Regions from separate parts of the Homo sapiens genome. Here region 2 is linked to region 1. The links come from fine-mapping of genetic effects on gene expression. A gene starts in region 1. The other region holds a variant in brackets. All regions are shown on one strand. Distances are from middle to middle.

What was found. PIP is the estimated chance that this variant, and not a neighbour inherited with it, causes the effect.
Region 2: its variant is the best candidate, but not a certain one, in a credible set for the expression of AFF2 in lung (GTEx, PIP 0.84).

Annotation. Positions count from the first base shown.
Region 1 is chrX:148,498,043-148,503,366 of GRCh38, reverse strand. It overlaps AFF2 (ALF transcription elongation factor 2), which reads right to left and starts at 2,750. Exons shown (of 21, transcript NM_002025.4): 1 at 2,223-2,750. The coding sequence starts at 2,269. RefSeq lists an enhancer at 1,213-2,090.
Region 2 is chrX:148,473,744-148,479,125 of GRCh38, reverse strand. No RefSeq gene overlaps it. Among named protein-coding and RNA genes, the nearest start is that of AFF2, 24 kb to the left of the region's middle. The variant A/G (reference allele first, on the strand shown) is at 2,441.

The sequences.
Region 1 (5,324 bases):
TAATGAACACGTAACTGGCATGCTCTGGACTTCCAAAGAGAAGTGGGAAAGGTACCAATTTCCACTCAAGACAATGTCAAGCTTTTTAGTTCATCCACTATTGTCACATTTATGTTCCTTTTCTCTGTGGAGCTATACAAAACACAAAAGCACAACCACATTACAAATGTTTATAAACAGAGATGCATCACGAAGTGTGCCACTCACGAGCAGTAAGAAGGAGAAATTTTCCTGGATCATGTACAGAGGGAAAGGACAGGCTTATTTATGCAGATGCGTTACACTAATTAATCAGTATTTCACATAATATTCACGAAGTGTCCAAGTCTATGCTTCTTAACTGATGTGTCTCAGTTAGGGATCTGGAGGAAAAAAAGGTTTTGCATTTTCCTTAAGATAAGAAAAAGAAAGCCTCCCACAGGGGTGAGGGAGCCTATCATTTTTTTTAAAGAAATCAAACATAAAAGAGTCCATTCCCTTTAAATATGCAATTGCATATGCATAAGATTAAACCGGAATTAATATAAAAAACATGTTTCTAAAAACCTAATACCTTGTATATGTTTAACATTTGAACTATACCCATGAAATTAATTATAACAATGTCTGTTAAATTAACGATGTAACCCACACCACATATTAGGCAAATTGTATGCAAATAGAGTGCTATGGTTATCAGTTGTCTGCAAAATAAATTAGTGAAGCAGAGTAAAGGCTGTGTGCAGAAGCATAATATCTAATTGAGCAATAATTTTATAGTAATTTTTACTTTCAAATAACAGCATTTTTTAATGTAACAATGTATTTCTACAGAGCTGATAAAACCGTGGTATCCAAAACGCCTTATAGATTAATACTGATACAGCATAATTTGCGCTTCAAGGATTTATCCGGAATTGCTGTAAAATAAAATGTATTTAAGTTCTGACTATCTTGGATTTGCAACTAAAGGAGGCATGATTGGCATAATGAAGCTGTTGGCTAAGCATATGACCCTTTTTTAAAGAAGGAAATTGCCTAAAATATCACATCAACAGGGGAAATCCTTGTAAAAATACACAGCATTCATAACCAACGGCCGCTAGTAGTTTAACATTGCAAAAGATTTCGCACTATTGGTAGGTACTACAGATCATTCTAAATACATTTTAAAAGGCAATAACCAAGAATGCAATTTTAAGCGGTTACCACTGCGCCCCCTCCCCATCTAATTCCTTAGACTGCGGGGGGAATCTGATACGTTTAAGTATTATGACAAATAAACTGTGATAATGTTTGTAGTAGGTGAAGTTTTTGAAAAGTTAATAGATATGTATATCAGTATTTATGCACACGCGCACGCACATCTCTAAGAGAGTTAACAACTTTCCAGGTCCCCAGTCACCTTTCTACCATCTTTCAAAATGTCTCAGCGACAAGTTTAGGGTATTTTGTGAAGAGCTGACTCAACCTTTGAATCTGAGCTGGAGGTCCCTTACAAAAAACTACGGCTGCCTCCCAGTGGGAGGCCGAAGGGGGTCCATCCGGTAATTAAATGTGCATTGACATCAGAGCTGCGGATTTGGGGGGCCAACTCCGAAAACCCTCAGTCTTGAAAGCCAAGCGCCGAAGTCGGCCTCGAACCAAGGTCCCCTGAGTGGTGGCCCCCAAAGCCGCTGCTCCACCCGGGAGTGCAGGGAACTTGGGCTGAGTCGGCAGAAGGAAAGGTGTGCGCGCCGCGCAGCGCAGGGATGGAGGTGGCGGCAGCGGGGGCGGTGGCCACCAAGGAAGCAGAGGGCTGCTGGCCGCACCTGGCCGTTGCCTTTCCCCCATGGCCCGCCGCGGGCGTTGGGCACCTGGAAAGTTGAGACATTTCGGGCGGGCGGCATCCGGGGCTCAAGGAGGCCAGACCGGCAAGCCGCTCCGAGAGAAAAGCTCCTGGGAGGTCGTGCGGTTCAGCCCTCGGGCGGCACCGAATTCGATGTGAGCCAAATGCAACTCTTTAGACTTGGAGCGCAAAGCGACGCTTTCGGGTCCGCATCCCTCCCTCTTCCCGCACCTCCCCCCACCCCGGCATCCGACCTAGGAGTCAGCGCGGCCGGGGCCAGAGGTGGCTGAGAGCAAGTGGGAGGGAGTCCGGGGCGCCCCCCACGACAGCTTCAGCTCCTCTTAACAAAGGCGAAAACCTCAGACTTCGCCAGGAGACTCGCTCATCAAAGGAGAAGGCAAAAATCAACACCTACCACTGCTGCTCCAAGTCCCAGTCTCTGAAAAAGTCGAATAGATCCATAGCGGCCAGGCGGCGGCGGCGGGCGGGCGCCTGTCCCTGATCGCAGCGGGTCGGCGCGGCTCTCGGCACAGCTCGCTGGCGGTTCTCGGCGGCCCCCGGCTCTCCAGCCCTCCCGCCCAGCTAAAAGTGTCCGGGCCGCATCGGCAGCAGCAGCGGGCGCTGGAGGTGTCTGGTCCTGTGCTCCGGCGAGGAAGCGGCGGCAGTGGCACTGGGCGGGCAAGCGCCTGGTCGCCCACTCGGGTCCGCTCGGTCCGCGGTAGCCCGCGCACCCAGCGACCCGACGCTGCGGCGGCAGCCGCTGCGGGCTCAGGCGGGCTGGGCCGCCCGCCTGGCTGGCTGCGGGCCGGCGGCGGCAGCGGCGGCGGGGGCGGCCGGGGCAGAGGCAGCGGCGCGGCGCGGCAGCCGGGGCGGCAGCGGCGGCGGCGGCGGCGGCGGCGGCGGCGGCGGCGGCGGCGGCGGCAGCGGCTGCACAGGCGGCGGCGGCGGCCGCGGCAGCATCACACACTTACACACTCACAGGGGGCGGAGCCTGGACAGCTAGAAGCCGCGACATGGAGCAGGCACGTTATCATCCCCGGATCTGGCAGGGGCTCGCCGCGCCCGCCCCTGCCTTTCGGGAACCCTCTCCCACCCCCCACTGTCAAAATCAGCTAGTGGGAGCGGCCACAGAGCTGAGGACCCGGACCCGGACCCGGGACGCAGGGGCCGTGGCAGGGATACAGGAGGTGGGCTGGCGGGACCAGGACGCGGGCTTCGGGAATGGGACCCCTCTCTGAAGCCCAGCCCACCCCCACCACTGGGAATTAGTTTTGAACTAGAAAAGACAGCACAAACAGCCGTGGGGTTGAAGGTCGCCCCCTGCCACCTCAAGCACAGCTCCTTGAGCCCCCGAGTAGTGGAGCAAACTTTGCGGGCCTGAGCATCCCTCAGGTCTGTAGTGCGTAGCACGCGGGTCCAGGAAGGAGAAGGCGGTCACCTTCACCAGCCCCGTGGCTCCACGTGCCCGCACCCAGGCCCTCCAGGCATGCCTTTAGGCGCGCACCTAGTAGGTCAGCGAGCTATAGGCCCTGGATTCAGTGGGCAGCAAGGATAGGAACAAATGACTGCCCTTGCGTGGTCCTTGAGTTCGGGGTTAGGATACTGTTAAACTGGGTTCCACTGTCACTTTCCTCGCACGGTCACCAGGTGCCTTGAGCAAAAGACTTCTGCTAGCTCCTCCTCTGAGAAATGGGAAAACCACTGGGTGTGTGCCCAGTATCCCACGCACCGGCTGCCCGTCTCCCTTCTGGCCTGAAATTCTCTTTCTGCACGTGGAGGGTTTAACCGAGCCTCCTACTCCCTTCAACCTCCACCTCTGATCCAGGAAGGAGTGGATCCCTTTAGCCAATTCCCTGGAGGGAAAGGTTCCCTGGCCTCCGTGCAGAGAAAGGTCTGTGGGAAGGGGCGGGACCGCTTTCTGGCATTTCAGGACATGAGCATTCTGGAGTCCTAGGCATGTAATTTGCCTTCTTCGTGTCGTTATACAGAGGGAATAGTATTGGCACATTTTTCAAATCCTAAGGCTAGAACTCTCTTGGGAAGGACAGCAGACTGAGCCCTGACAGAGCAGGGTGCCGGTAGCTCTGTGTGTGACTCCAAGCAAGTCACTTATCTGGGCCTCAGTTTCTCCATAAAACACCCAGCAGCCCTCTGGCTCATACTTCTCTGACATTCTCCCTTCTATTTGAATATGCTTCTACAGTATTATCTCATATTACCAAAATCATCCAAATACCTTTTAACTTCATTTTTTTCCTGAAGAAACAGAGACCCTAAGACATTAAAATGCTCAAGATCTGATATTTCCCCTAGAGGGGGATCCCAGATTAGAACCTAGAACCTGGGAAGCTCTTCCAGGGCTGGAGCCAGTAGAAGGTGCCTCAGCTCCAAGCATGAATGACTTCAGCATTTGAGCTACAAGGGGCCCAGGGTCTGGTCTCTTTCACATTGTTTTACGGGGGGAAAGAAAGCACATCATTAACATAGAGAAACAAGGCTCTAAGATTCTGCAACTCAAGCATCCACTGGGACTTTGCTTAGATGTCTATTTACTTTGCATGGGACCAAGTCCTCAACAGATGCTGGTTGACTGATGGAAAATCAACCAGTGGGCAGCCAAGGGGAGACGACATCTCAAAGTGGCTTGTAGATTTGGCTACCTGTAAACTCCTCTGGTCAAAAAGACTCTATGGAGAAACAGTTATTGGCAAAAATGGTGCTGGGGATTTTCAAATTATCTCTGTGACTTATTTATTCATGGAATTCTAGTATTCAGCCCTGGACTGAGAGCCCTTAAAGCAACAAGGACGGCCTCGCTCAGATCTGTGGCCCCCGACCTTTATGCCTTCAGTAAAAAATCCTCAAATTGGATTTGATTGCTGATGATGGTTGCCAGCATTAGTACTTGATCTGCTTGAAAATCCTTAGAGGAAAGCCAGAACACCTACAATTAACATTTAAATGGTGATTATGGTCACTTTATTTCTGGTTTACTTTTCTCACAAAATTGTATTTAATGGGGAAAGATAGAAAAAAAAATAACATGCTAGGCAAACAAATTTTCAACAGAAATAAAGCTGCCCCTTTAAGAGTTCCAGCCCCCCATCACCTCACTGGTGCACTTTCTTCCCAATCAGCAGGAGGACCAAGCAGAAGCAGAAGGAGCCAGCAAGAGGCAGCACTATGAACAGAAGTGCCTGCGGGAAGGAGAGAAGAGACAAGTGGTGCCGGCTGCTGCTTCAAAAGAGGGGCAGGGGCTTTCCCTTCCTGAGATCAAAACCAAGCAGGAAGGTTGGGTTGGGTGGAAGGAGCCCCCACTTCCTAGCCACTCTCCTCAAACAGAGATGAGGTTAAGACAGGCAACACTGAAGGGGCCAGGCTGTCCCTGAGGCCTCTTTGGCCGGGCCTGGCACCTGCTCACTGAGCATCAGCTACTGAGCAAGATAGAAGCTTTGTCTTCTCTGATCCAAGGTGTGCTTTCTCCCTTCCTCCTCACTCTGTGCATCCGTGGCTCTGA
Region 2 (5,382 bases), 24 kb after region 1:
TATCCCCTAGTGTATTCCACAGAACAAGGTGATGAATATCAAATTCTTTAAATTATTGAATGTTGAAAACTGGTTTTCTAGTCTTGAAACTTGAAGGAGAGCCTGATTGTATTAATATGTACAATTATTGGTTTATACTTTATTTCATTGAGCATTTTATTTTCAAAATGCTGCTTCATTGCTGTTCTGCTTGTATGTTGATTATGAAAATTCTGTGCCAGTCCAATTGTTTTGTAAGTTAATCGATCGCTTTGCCTAGAGGCCTAGAAGATTTTACTTTTATTTTTTAAATGTAATCATGTTACCAGGTCATGTTTTAGAGTTGAAAATTCTGTTAATTTCCCTAAGTACTCATGGGTCAACTCAGGCATTTTTCTATTTCTGGGAAGATATTTGTTTCATAGTTTTAAATATTAGTCCTGTTTCAGTGTTTCTGCATTTTTTCTCCAGGGACTCCAATAATAGAAATATTATTCCTTCTTTACCTCTCTTCCATTTCCACTACCTTCCTTTTGACTGTTTTTTACTTATATTTTGTGGTCTTTTAATCTTTTTGCTTTTTTTTCTCTGCCCCTTATTGCATTTTTTTTTCAATGCCCCTTATTACATTTTCATTTCAACCCATTCCTTCTCCCTTGGATCCCTTGTAATTTATTCTTCTTTTATAAGATAATTTTGTATTTTTCTTCCATTTATTTGCAGAGTTTACTCATCTCTCTTACTTCTTCCAGTGTTTAGTTCATTTCTACTTTTAGTGTTTGACTTTCTGACTCAAGGTAGTTTTTTATAGCCTCACAAGCTTGTTTAAATTTATTTAATTCTATTTGGTGTGTTGACTTACTTCTTTATATGATTCATAGGTTTTTTTTCGGGGGGGGGGTTCCTCAGTTCATATATATGATATTTTGTTTCCTAATTTTCTGTCATAGCTTTGTTAACTTCAGTTTTCTTTTGTTCATTTTTATGGTACTGAGTTATTTTTATAAGACTGCAAATTAAATGCCATCTTCTTTTGTCAGTATAGAAAGGACCAGGTACTTTGGCTGTGATGTGGGAGTTGTAAGTGCTTAGATGATGTGGTTCTCTTTTGTCTTGCAGGGCCCTAAATTTCCCCCCTTTGCCTTTGTATTCCTTTTGACTACCCAATTGTCAAATATTTCTTTTCCTTTCCTTCTTACTTTTCTTCTCCCTGCCAAAGCTATGTGTTTTGAAGCCAATTCCTTCATATCATGCCTGCTCTTTTACATCATGCCTGCCTGCTTAAAGAGTGCTTGACTCCTTTAAACCATATGTGCCCCTTTTAATTATGTATAATTTTAAGTTCTCTCCTTATAGTTCATGTTCTCATCTTCCTAGAAACTTTTTATTTTAGTATTTTCGGGATTAAAGTGGACTTACTCTTTCTGGAAGTAGATTTAAAATAAACTTAGCACATTTTCCTAGCTTCCCTCATTTGTCTTCCCTGAGGTTTTTTGTTTGTTTGTTTGCTTACAGTCTGCCTTTGCTGGCCACAGAGCCTTACAGTAGGACAGACATGGGCCAGGACCACGAGAGATGAAACTCTGGGAATAGGTGAATTTTATCTTTTCACTCACAGTTACTTTGAAGTTTGGGCATTCTCTGTCCTTAAGCTATGATAAGGGCATGGTTTTTATATTGATTCATTTCTTCCTTTTTTTGTCATTTTTGTAGGCTACATTAGCAGGCAGGTTGCAGGCTGCTGTACTACAATTACTACTTGATGTCTGTTTATGTTTTTTTTTAGAGATTTAAAGATGCCTTTTATCCCAACATTGTAGATACTAAGTTTACTCCCTTTTATGGAGGGTAGAAAATAACAAAAATATTGCTATAATTCAATAGAGATTAAAAGATAAGAATTTAAATTTAAGGTGAGAGGACTTCCCATTAGCAATGGACAATTCAAAATTTTTGATATGAAAATGATGTCTAATAAAAAAATTCTACTATCAGGCTCCTCCTTCGTATATACTTTATTAATCTTTTGCTTTTGCAATCTAAGTGATGGATGACATGGGCATTTCTAAGGAAAAATGTTATTCACCTTTCTAAAACTGCCAATATTCCCTATGAATACTTCTTATATTCATTAGGAAAGCTTTAGGTTGAAAGTAACTAATACCGGATGATGAGTATAGTTTGAATCTATGAGGATATTCACTGTTAAGTATGAAGTAAGGCAGTCTCATTGTTGAGCAAACAGCTTAACAGTGTCCTCAAGAATTCAGGCTCTTTCCATCTCTTTATTCTGCTACACTCAAAGTTTTGGCCTTTGGGTTTGTGTGTGTGTGTGTGTGTGTGTGTGTGTGTGTGTGTGTGTGTGTGTGTGTGGTGAGGTTTTATCACCTTATGGTCACATGAAGGCTGCTATAGCTTCAGACATTATGTCTTCAATTTAGCAGGAAGAATGAAAAGGAGA[A/G]GACACACGTGCTTTGTTATCAGGAAACCACAATAGTTTCCCCAAGTCTCAAACAAATTCTGGCCAAACCTAGCTATAAGTACCTAGCCTTCCAACATCTGTAGGAAGCAGGGAGAAGAGAGTTGGAAATGGCTGTTGAATTTTCCAGCCAACAATGTGTATGCCAATGGTTCCAAAATAGTTAAGTGGTGCCACTAGCAGTTCTAGGAAAGACATCCAAGAATACTTGTAGTCCAAATGCTTTCTAAATGACAATAATTGTCATTGACACTTTAAGACTACTTACTATAACCAAAATATGGAGTTCAAAGTTTTTCTCATTCTGACCATTCTGTTGTACTTACACCCTCTGGCTTAAGGAAGGGGTACAAAGCCCTACTTGTGTATTTGGAAAGATGGTGTGGGGTACTCAGCGGAAGTGTAGGGAGTATGCAAGCAAGGCACAGCCTACGTAACTATAGTGCTCTGTTGCTTGCTTAGTGCTTAGAGATGGTGACATTGTCTGACTGAGTGATTAAGAGACTGATAATGTCACTGCAACATTGTGTCACTGAAAAAAAAAATGAGTACAGATAATGACCTGGTTCCTTTTTGAGTGCCACCACTTGAGAATACCCACAGTGCCCTCTGCATATTCTAGTCAATCAATTGTAAAGACTGTTGATGGTTTATAGGCTTTCAAAATTAGGGAATTAGGATTAGGGAACAACAAGGCATCGAAATAGAATTTAGAAGCTCAAAGAAATCAAACCACTTTTCATAAATTCCTAATGGAAATACTGGGTATGGAAACTGATTTGGGCATAACCATTAACATATAACACTTACGAATGCTTCCACTATTCTTTCTGATATGATTCATCTCTGTATTTATCTGTTTTGACTTCAGTGTAAACTATACCAGCTGGCATCCTAGTGGAATAGGAACATTATACAGTTATTAAACAACAACAAATTATATATTACACATGACATAAAGATAAACAACCAATAGTTAATTCTTATAGGAGAATAGCAAAACTTTTTCTCAATACTGAGAATGAAGTACAAAGCTCTGGCATTTTATTGTTTGCAAAACTTTGATTTGATTTTATCCTCCCAAGAAAACAGAAGACGTATTATTGTTCTTACTTTGCAGATGAGAATCATAGGCTCAGAGAGGGGAAATGACTTGGCCAAAGTCTCCCTGTTTCTTAGTGAAAGTAGTAGGACTTGACCTTAGGTTTCCTGAGTCTTCATCCATTGCTCTTTCCACCTTTGCAGGCTGTTTCCTGGACCACTTTGTGGTTCAGGTTTCTGAAATAATATATTTCTGACTAGTTTATACCCCTGTTGTGCTAAATAGAACTGAAGTCTCAAATCTGGGTCCACCTGGGACCACTATTTCAGATGAATTAACTGATTTCAAATGTCTTGGTCCACTGTTTCTGTCAATAAATAAGGCATTTGCCATTTTTTGTTGTTTTTGTTGTTGTTGTTGTTGTAGTTGAGATGGAGTCTTGCTCTGTCGCCCAGGCTGGAGTGCAGTGGCGCGATCTCGGCTCACTGCAAGCTCTGCCTCCTGGGTTCACACCATTCTCCTGCCTCAGCCTCCCGAGTAGCTGGGACTATAGGCGCCCACCACCACGCCAGGCTAATTTTTTTGTATTTTTAGTAGAGACAGGGTTTCACTGTGTTAGCCAGGATGGTCTCGATCTCCTGACCTCGTGATGCACCCGCATCGGCCTCCCAAAGTGCTGGGATTACAGGAGTGAGCCATGGCATTTGCCATTCTTATGCTAGTTTCCTTTTTTTTTTCTAGCTGGACATAAGCTAGAGAGTTAACTTGTATCATGATCAAAAGCAAGAGGTGATTTGCCAACAGCAAAATCCTAATGCTATTTATCTATAAAAGGAAGATAAACAGATAATGCAAAAAATAACCCAACCTTGATATTTCAGCCATGTAGCCATGTAAAGTCAAATAAAACCATGATAGAAAAAATAAAAAAGATTTCACTGTTCGATTTTCCTCTTTATTCTCCTTAATAATACAACAAATACTGTACTTTACTTAGAATGATTTTTAAATGAACTACTAAAATGACCCAGTCAAAAAGCAAGAATAAATTTGACCAAAGTTTAAAACCAATGTCAGTTTTCAAATTTCTGCAGGATAAACATGACCTTATTGCATTTTAAATCTGTATAATTTTACAAAATATGATGCTTAGTCTCCAAGAAAAATTCTTTTAAGACTTAATAAGTTACTTGGATAGTATATAGCATATTCTTATCTGTATTTTTCTCAAATACACAGATTCACTATTCTATTTTTAAAAAGTGTTTGAAAAGGGCATTTGAAGTTTTCACAGATAACTGAATAATGGTTTGCAATGTTCACCACGGTAAAAACGTAGTTTGCTTGGTTCGCTATGACTAATTATTCTGAGAGATACAAATATGTGCACTTATGCTGAAAAGCTCTCTTGTCCTGCCCTCTAGCATGCAACTTTTCATGAATTTTATGCAAATCTCTGTATTCAACAGCAATTTTTATTTGAAAAATAGAACAATGAGTAGCATAGAAAAAAATAAGAAAATTAAGGTCAACTTTTCTATACTCTGGTCTTTTATCTTCACGATCTTCACATTTATTTTTACTGTTCCAGCAAGATTGGCTTCTTATTTTCACTGTTTCAGCATCAGCAGGGTATTTTCTGTAACAGCTCCATATGGATGATGTACATGCTTCTTGGCTTATATCTACTCATATGTTCATGATTTAACACCAAATGGAAATTACAGCCAACTCTCAATGACCCATAAAAGAGAGGGGCATTGTAGTACAGATAACTCAAGAAGTCCAAAAACCCTAAGTCATTTGTTTGGCTTTGGATGTGTTCTCTATCTTAGCTTAGAATACTTTGTCTTTTAATTAAGCCTACTTTCCTAATTGTGTT